Linked DNA regions of Homo sapiens: region 2 is linked to region 1. Evidence: fine-mapped expression QTL. A gene starts in region 1. The other region holds a variant in brackets. All regions are shown on one strand. Distances are from middle to middle.

The links. PIP is the estimated chance that this variant, and not a neighbour inherited with it, causes the effect.
Region 2: its variant is the best candidate, but not a certain one, in a credible set for the expression of ABHD15 in whole blood (INTERVAL, PIP 0.51).

The regions. Positions count from the first base shown.
Region 1 is chr17:29,565,349-29,569,602 of GRCh38, forward strand. It overlaps ABHD15 (abhydrolase domain containing 15), which reads right to left and starts at 1,689. Exons shown (of 2, transcript NM_198147.3): 1 at 738-1,689. The coding sequence starts at 1,618. It overlaps TP53I13 (tumor protein p53 inducible protein 13), which reads left to right and starts at 3,353. Exons shown (of 7, transcript NM_138349.4): 1 at 3,353-3,482; 2 at 3,670-3,738; 3 at 3,970-4,011. The coding sequence starts at 3,411. RefSeq lists enhancers at 630-739, 2,760-2,809, 3,893-4,254 and silencers at 1,260-1,879, 1,970-2,229, 3,230-3,589.
Region 2 is chr17:30,222,495-30,226,992 of GRCh38, forward strand. It overlaps SLC6A4 (solute carrier family 6 member 4), which reads right to left. Exons shown (of 15, transcript NM_001045.6): 2 at 325-421. Among named protein-coding and RNA genes, the nearest start is that of SLC6A4, 11 kb to the right of the region's middle. RefSeq lists an enhancer at 1-464 and a silencer at 3,403-3,603. The variant C/T (reference allele first, on the strand shown) is at 2,346.

The sequences.
Region 1 (4,254 bases):
ACAGGGTGTTGCTCTGTCACCCAGGCTAGAGTGCAGTGGCCTGACCAGGGCTCTCTGCAGCCTCGAACTTCTGGGCTTCGGTGATCCTCCCATCTCAACCTCCTGAGTAGCTGGGACCACAGATGCATGCCACCACACCCGGCTAATTAAAAAAAGAAATTTTTGTAGAGACAGGTTTTCCTATGTTGCCCAAGTTAGTCTCAAACTCTTGGGCTCAAGTGATCCTCCTGCCTTGGCCTCCCAAAGTGCTGGGATTACAGGCGGGAGCCACTGCACCTGGCCTCAAATGCCACCATATTTCTGATTCCTGTCACCTCCAGGCTCAGAGACTGTGAGTAAACATTCTGGGCAGATAATCGTTTGCAATTGCTTCCAGAGTGCTCTTTGCTGAGCTGTTAAGCTGTGGGCTAAGTGGTAAATGTCAGGTATCTCTGCTGTCGTGGGCCAGGTGCTCAGATTGCTAGGATACAGCAGGGGGTGCCGAGATGAGGCAAGGGGCCGGGTTAGGAGTCCCTGCTCTAGCACAGCGATACTAGCTGAGTCCATCGATGACCTTTAAACCCGCTTCCCCGGTTCTGTCTAGATTACAGGGTTTGGAAGGCTTTGGAAGATGTGTTCAGAGAACTTTGCCCAAACTGGCCCACGCCTGTTCCAATGCTATGCATAGCTGTTTCTGATTCTTAGCCAGCTCAGGCCCTCTATTCTTTCCATGCTGGTCTGCGGCCTCCGTTACCCACCTGCTGAGGGCGATCTTCTGGTGGAGCAGAAAGCCCCGCTCGTAGGGCCAGGGCAGGCCGGCCTCGAACCACTCTCGGCAGCGCAGCACGGGCGAGATGCAGGCGGCGCCTGTCACGTAGCTGGAGGAGCCGCACTCGCCCAGGTAGGACAGGAGCAGCGCCGAGCCCGAGCCTTCGCTCACCGCGAACAGCGGCGCCGCCGGGTGTCGGAAGCGGATGTATGTGACCGCCTCCTTGAGGTCGGACGGGTCCCCGAAAGGCTGCAGCCGGGGGCTGACCAGTGGGCAACCGTGGTGGCCGCGGCGATGGAAGATGACCGGGTAGTAGCCGCGCTCCAGGGCGAGCAAGCAAAGGCCGAGCACGTTGCGGGTGAGGCGACCCCACGCATTGGGGATCACCAGAAGCACCGCAGGAAGGCCCCCGGCGCTGGTGATCCGGCGGCCCCGAACACAAGGTCCTACCACCCAGTCCAGGGCCACTAGCCCATCGTCCGCCAACTGCAGGTACTCCCGGGCCAGCTCAGGCCCAGGCGCTACGGGCAGGACGAAGTGGCAGAGGGTCTGCAGGTGGGGCCCGGAGAACCAGGAGCGCGGGCCGGCCTCCAGCGCCTCTGAGCGCCGCAGGGCGCGCAGCAGGCACTGGGCCAGGGCCGACGGCTTGCAAACAAGGCTGCACCCTCCCGGCAGTGGCTCGCGCCCGTCGCTGAACTGGTCCGCCGGGCCTCCGCCGTCCGCCTCCTCCCCGTCGTCTCGGTCTTGGGCCCCCGGCAGGGTCCTCTCTCCGACGGCGCGCCCCCAGGGTCCCCGGAGCCGCGGGCCGAGCAGGCCGAGAAGGGCGAGCACGGCCAAGATGAGCGCGAGGGCGGCGCCCCACGGCGGCATGGCGAAGCTGGAGAGCCCCGGCGGGCAGCGGGCGGCGGGGCCGTCTACTCGGCGAGCTCCGCGCTTTGCCCGCGGCTCCGCCCGCCGGCGGCGGCTGCCCAGGGCCCTCCCGCGCGGGCGCGCTCTGGATTGGCCGTGGCCGGGCAGAGGCAGCCAGTTCGGGCCCGGCTGCCCTCGCCCGCCCCCCACCCCCGCCCCGGCCCTTTGTACAGCAATTGCAACAAGTGGGAGCAGAGGGTGAGAGGAGCCGGGGCCACCAGGGAGGGAGGGCGCGCCGGCAGCCGGAAGGGAGTGGGGAGGGCACGAGCCGGGGAGAGCGGTGTTGGCCATGGAGACGTGGGGAGACTGGAGGCCGAGGCTTGGGGACCCGACTGTCATCAGGGTCTTCCGCCAGACCCTGGGCGCTGCGCCCTCAGAGGCCGATGAAAAGAAGCAGAAGGGAGAGGTGAGTAAGTCGCAGCTCCGGGCGCCGGCTCCCGGGACCCCGTGGGGCGGCGGCCGCGCGCGCGCTCTGCCCTCGGGCGGCCCTGCTCTCCCCCGCCCGGCCCCGCAACCCCGCAATAACTTGGCTGGGCGGGGTCCGGCACTGGGCTAGAGAGGTCGAGCGCGGCGTCTTGAGCCGCTGGCGGGAGGCTGCTGCTTCCCCGCCTGCATCAGTGCGGGTCCCGTGGACTCCTCGCCCCCGTCCCCGCGAGCTCGGGGCTCCACATCAAGGAAATCCTCAGCCCGGGAGTGGCTTCCCCAGAAACAGCAGCCCCAAGCCTCCGAGAGTCAGTCGGAGAAAAGGACACACTCAGGCGCCCTGCGACAGGGATGCCCGTCCGACCTACAAGGAACGCCTCGTAAACCGGGGTGCATGGGAGACCACGGAAATAACACGTTCTCGCTGTTTCCAAGCTTTGGGATAGGCATCTCGACCCTCGCTCTCTACCCACGTTTCCCCCCCAAATCCTGGAGAGGGAACCAGAACCAGCGCCCCGCTGCGGGGCGGGCCGGCCAGCGCACCTCCTGGGGGTGAGGCCTGTGGCGTCCCCATCTCGCGGCGACCAATCTCTTTCTAGACGCGCGCCTGCCACCGCTGGGCGACGGCGGAGGTGGGGAAGACAGCAGCCTCTCGGCTAGCTCCGGCCTCCCGGGGCTTCTGGGTTTGGAGAGTTTGGGGAGCGGAGACACCTCCCGAGGCTCCTCCGCGTTGGACCCTATTTGCGAGGGCGGGAGCGGGGTGGGCCGACGGCGAAGCTCCAGAGGTGGGACCCTCTCCCTTCAGCAGCTCTTCCTGACTTCATGATTCTGCCCCTCTTCTCATTGCAGGTCACACCGACAAATCTGAAGCGGGTTTGCCAGGGGAGTGTACCCGTCTCCCCAGCCTGGGCCACCCGGTCCACAGGGATTCCATTTCCGGCCTTACACTCCGCTCCACGATCTCATCCAGGCGCTGCAGCTGTGCAGCTGCTCTACAGACTGCAGGGACCTGCTGAGACGAATCCCCGGACGAGGAAAGGGGCCCCCCGCCTGCCCTACTGAGCCTTGCGCGCTGACCCGGTTCCTACACTTAACTTTTCCGGCTTCGGGTTTAAGACGCGTGCGCGCACACTCCGCTGCTGTGGGCGGGCATTGGGGCGGGGCGATACCGGGGGCCCACTGTCTGGGGAGGGGCGCGCGCGAGCCCAGGGCCAACGGACGCGCGGGCGGCGCGGGCGGCGCGGGGGCGCTGGGGCTGGAGGGGCGGGGCGCGCGCGCTCCCTCGCTGGCGGAGCGGCTGGGCGGCGGGCCGGGCCCGGGGCCGCTTGGAATGGCGCCTCCTCCGCCTTCGCCCCAACTGCTTCTCCTGGCAGCCCTCGCGAGGCTCCTGGGTCCCAGCGAGGTAAGGTGACCCGCTCCTGGGAAGGCCTCGGCCCGCGAGCTCAAAGCGCTTTGCCAAAAGTTCGTCCTGGAAGGAGTGGCGCGCCGAGGGGGACGCGGAGTTCTTCCGCTGGCGGGCTGGGCCTGGGGAGAGAGAGGGCAGGGCCTCGCCGCGTCCAGCGCCCCAACTCTTCGCTTTGGACCCACAGGTGATGGCTGGACCGGCGGAGGAGGCGGGAGCCCATTGTCCCGAGAGCCTGTGGCCTCTGCCTCCGCAGGTAGGAGCCCTGGAGGGCCCAGGGAGAGAGGGATGTGAAAGGCTAGCCCAGTCCCGCTCTGTTCTCGCCGCACCCTCCACAGTCACCATCTGAGGACCTCTGCCGGTTCCTCAGTCCTCAGTAGCCAACTTCTCCATCCCAGCCTGGCGCTTGGGGCCTGCCGTCCCCTCCCCACCACACACACACGGAGTCCCCCAACTGCCCTAAGCTCTGTTCTTTCCCCATGTATAGGTGTCACCAAGAGTGACCTACACACGAGTGAGCCCAGGGCAGGTGAGTACAAGCAGGGGCCCACCACCCTTGGTGTCCACGCCTGGAGACAGGCGCTCCTAGCAGGCTTCGCTGCCTGTTCTGCTGATCGGCCCCATTCCTTACCACTTCCCTCAGGCAGAGGCAGGGTTCTAGTTCTCTGCCCCACCTCCAAGCCCAGGACAGATCAGCCCCAGGACAGATGGCTCAAAGACAGTGAGCCATAGGCCTGTCATCTGCAATGCTGTGTCAGGATGCTGTTGGGTA
Region 2 (4,498 bases), 660 kb after region 1:
TGACAAGCAAAGGCGTTTCTGCCTTTCAGCAGGCAGGACAGTCCTCACCATCATTTAAGCTGCACACCCAAAGTTATATTTTATATCAACTACAGCTATGATTTTAAAAGGAAAAAAGCAAAGGACAGAGGTAAAAAGGCCACCCTTCGTGAGGCACCCCAGCTCATCAGCTACAGATTCTGTCACTCGTCTTTTAGCCCCTAGGAAGGTTGGGGCAGATTTGAGCTGCCTCCGGCTGTGTCCAGTCTATCTGCACATGGCCTTTCTGCGTTCCCATTATGCATTTGCAAGCCCGACTGGTCCTTAAACGGCACTGCTGCTCACCATTTGTTCTTCTTTCCACTTGCCAGCAACTCCTGTGGCTAAGCCCCTTGTTATTCTGCAAGAGAGGGCAAGCAAGGTCGCCTTGCCTCCAGGAGACCTAGGGAGAAGAGTGTGCAGGTTACTGATGCTGGGGTGGTTGGTGTCGCCGTCCCCCTGTGCCTCCACTGGGAGGGCCTGGCCGGGGCTGCTGTGCCTTCATTTCACCGCCGTGGCCTGGGCGCAGGGAAGTCAGCTCAGCTCTGGCTTGAGGTCTGAGTCGTCAAACGTGGGGTAGAAATTTGAGCCCTTTTGGACTTTAAACCTATGGCCTGTTATAAAGTTGTAAGCAGCAGTTGTAAGACTGTTCAACTGCTCACTCTGTTTCTTCTGGGCCTGAGCTTTTCAAACTCTTGAAACAGTTTGGGAGTTGAAATACGTTTCTGCCTAGCTGAGATGACACTGGACCCTTCTAGAAAAGATAGCCAGGGATGGACTGTTTATAACTGCAATGATCTGAGGCTAACCCTCCAGATCCAACAGTTAGGAGGATGGCTAGGAACTGGCTAATAGAAATGGCGCATGGATGTCTCCTACCTATTTGGGGTTTTTGGTGACTGCAACTTAGCTACCTACACATGTGAAGACAAAAACATAGTAAGTGAAAAATCAGGACACAAAATAGTAGCTTCACAAGAATGACTATGGCTATAAACATGAGCAAGGATTAGACATGAACACCAGGCAATGTCAGTCACTAGGGTTTGGCGTTTGCTGCATTTTTTCTGTAAAGTGGAAAATAAAAATTTTAAAGGGATCGATTGTTGCCAAAAATATCTACAGCAACAAGAGATAAATCAGCTTCATGTAGCTAGGGGCTGTGTGTGTGTAAGGGGAGGTAGACGTCTTGGGCTGTACCGCACTTGTTGGGCCCTCCGCCACCCACCCCAGGCTCAAGAATGCAAACACCACTCAGAAGGATATGAATTCTGACAAGAGCGGTCTCCATAACCTCACCCTGCTCACCATTTATGCTACTGCCTGGCCTTGGCCTCCCCCCACTTCCCCCTTCCTTCGGCCCTCAACTAGGCTTGATAGGCTTTTAAAATAACCACACATCCTCTCACCCACCATAGGTAACCATTTACCAGGCCAAGGGATATTATTATTTTATTACATGATGAGATGTCAACATATTTAAATATTCAGCTAAATTAAACCTGAACTTGGTAGTCAGTGGTTGTGTTGTTTAAAAAGGCCTCTGTACTTCCCTCCGGCCTATATCAATGACATGTTTTGTACGTTAAACAACTGACGAACTTGAAGGCCAAATGGCAGGGAGGAAGAGCTTTTCCCTGTGCGGCTGGAGGGCACCGAGTTGACAGAGCTGCTCCTTCCCTTGCTCTTCCTCCCACTGGCCCCACAGTTTTGTTTTTTTTTTTTTGAAACAGTCTTGCTCTGTTGCCCAGGCTGGTGTGCAGTGGCACAATTTTGGCTCACTGCAACCTCTGCCTCCCGGGTTCAAGCGATTCTTGTGCCTCAGCCTCCGAGTAGCTGGGACTACAGGCGTGCTCCACCATGCCCGGCTAATTTTTATATTTTTAGTAGAGATGGGGTTTCACTATGTTGGCCAGGATGGTCTTGAACTCCTGACCTCACATGATCCACCCGCCTTGGCCTCCCAAAGAGCTGAGATCACAGGTGTGAGACACCATGCCTGGCCTGGCCCCACAATTTTCTGCAAGAACCTCTTCTATTTTCTGTACTGCCACTTTCCTCTCACTTAAATAGAAGCTCCAATTGCATCACCCAAGCGTTCCCTGGCCTCTCTACCCAGGCCCAGAGGGTCTACGGAAGGGAAATGCGGTCCATCTCAGAAGCAATACTTTGGGGAGAGGAAATAGACATTTAGCAGCAGCAGTGAGCAGTTACCCTCCTGCCTCAGGGGCCAAATGATTTGTTCTGGATTTTGTTTACTTTCTTCCTTGAGGCGTCCTGCAGAGAGGGTAGAAAATGTGTGCAGGTAGGTAGATTTTTGAGGGCAA[C/T]GTGTGTTCTCAGGAGTCCTCAGGGGTTCAGCCCCGAAGGCATCCAGTCCTGAATTCCTGGCAACTATGGTAAGCAGCTCCTGGAAGAGTAATACGCTGTTTCTATTTGTGTTCTGAGCCATTACAGAGGTCTTGTTTCCTGAAATATCCCCTAGTTCTTCTTAATTTTTTAATTAAAAAATTTTACATCAACAGGCTGAAATGGCCCCAGTGCAAGAAAACCCAGAGCATCCCTCAGACAACTCATGACCGGGCAGCCTCTCCCCACAGGCTGTCTCTCTCTATCCAGCTGTGCTTTCTGGGGTTCTCCTACTGAACCCCCACCCTCATCATAGAATCTGGGGTGCAAACACAAAGTTACAGCCACTCAGAGGAGACACACATCTCCTTTTCTTAACTTACTCCTCTGCCTCTGCCAGGTAGAGGAAAACTCCTCTCGGTGACTAATCGGGTCTGCCAGGAGAAGATGCCATGTGCCCGGGGCCCTTTCTGCCTGCAAGCTCCTGCCTGTGGAGCCCCAGACTCTCTTCCTATTTTTTCTGATTCTGCAGAGCCCTGGCTGGCTTTTTCTATCAAGACTTGCACATAACAATGGCTGAAAACAAGCTGGCCCAGGAATAGAGAAGTGTGAGTTGTTAAGAAGGTTGGTTTCTGAGAATGCCCTCTTCTAAGCTTTCTTTTTTTAAAAGGTATTTTTATCCTGCTGGGTGGAAAGATTGCAAACGAGGTCAATATTACAGCTGTGACCTTCTCCAGGCAGTCTTTGAGTTTCTCCATGTCCAGAAAAAGCCCCAGAAGGAAGCCTTCCTTTGCATCTTGGATGTGTGCTGTTGTTCCAGGCTGAGCTGGTGACAGGCTGAGGGTGGTGCCGTGGACCCCACCTCTGCTGTGGAATGACAGCTGGCAGACAGAAGCTTCGTCCCCCTAGGTCTCTGCACATGAGGGGTGCAGTTGACCAGCCAATGGGAGTGGTTGACTTTCTCTTAACTCTCCTGAAGCTAATGCACTCCATTCCCCCAATCCCTGACTCCAAGTAAAAAAGGACTGTTTCTATTTAAACTTCTGATCGAATCTCCATTCCTCTTTCCACACACTTTGTCTCTATAGCCAGGAGCAACCCGTACCTGAACAAGCATGTAATTATCCCGATTGGTCATAAACACCCAGCCCTTTGGAAATGCCTGTGACGCTCCATCTACTTGATGCCTATCAGTGCCTTCTAAGCAGAAAGACACTACAGAAATGTTGAACTTTGACTTCATGTGTCAAGATCAAAGTGAGTTCATTTCTCAGGAAACTCAACTTTCTTTCTCAAAACAAACAAAAACAAATGAACTGTGGGTTTAACGTTGAGATAGGATTAGTTACAGGTCATAGAGCCAACTGGCAGTTCGTATCCTCTATTCAGAGGGAGGCTGAAGTTCCCAGGGCATCTCCCAAGAGTGATGGGAATTATGGAACGCTGGTGCCGCCCGAAGCAGTAAACATGGAATCTGGCCTTCTTCATGGAGAAGCACTCCCTCAGCAAAGATGTGCGTAGGCCCACATGTGCTCGGCTCCTCAGAAACAAGGCAGGCAAGCCGGGCCAGCTGGCTCACGCCTGTAATCCCAGCACTTTGGGAAGCCAAGGCGGGCGGATCACCTGAGGTCAGGAGTTTGAGACCAGCGTGGCCAGCATGGTGAAATCCTGTCTCTACTAAAAATACAAAAAGTAGCTGGGTGTGGTGGCGGGTGCCTGTAATCTCAGCTACTTGTGAGGCTGAGGCAGGAGAATTGCCTGAACCCAGGAAGCGGAGGTTGCAGTGAGCTGAGATTGAGCCACTACACTTCAGCCTGAGTGACAAGAGTGAAACTCTGTCTCAAATAAATAAATAAAAATAAAAATACAAAAAATGAGCCGGGCGTGGTGGTGCATGTCTGTAATCCCAGCTACTCAGAAGACTGATGCATGAGAATCGCCTGAACCTGGGAGGCAGAGGTTACAGTCAGCCAAACTGCGCTCCAGCCTGGGCGATAGAGTGAGACTCTGTCTCAAAAAAAAAAGAAAAAGAAAGAAAAAAGAAACAAGGCAGGCACAGTCCTGCCTGCATGGAGTCCACAGGCCAAGCCTAAAATCTGAAAAAGAAAACCAACTGCTAGGAAAAACACGATGC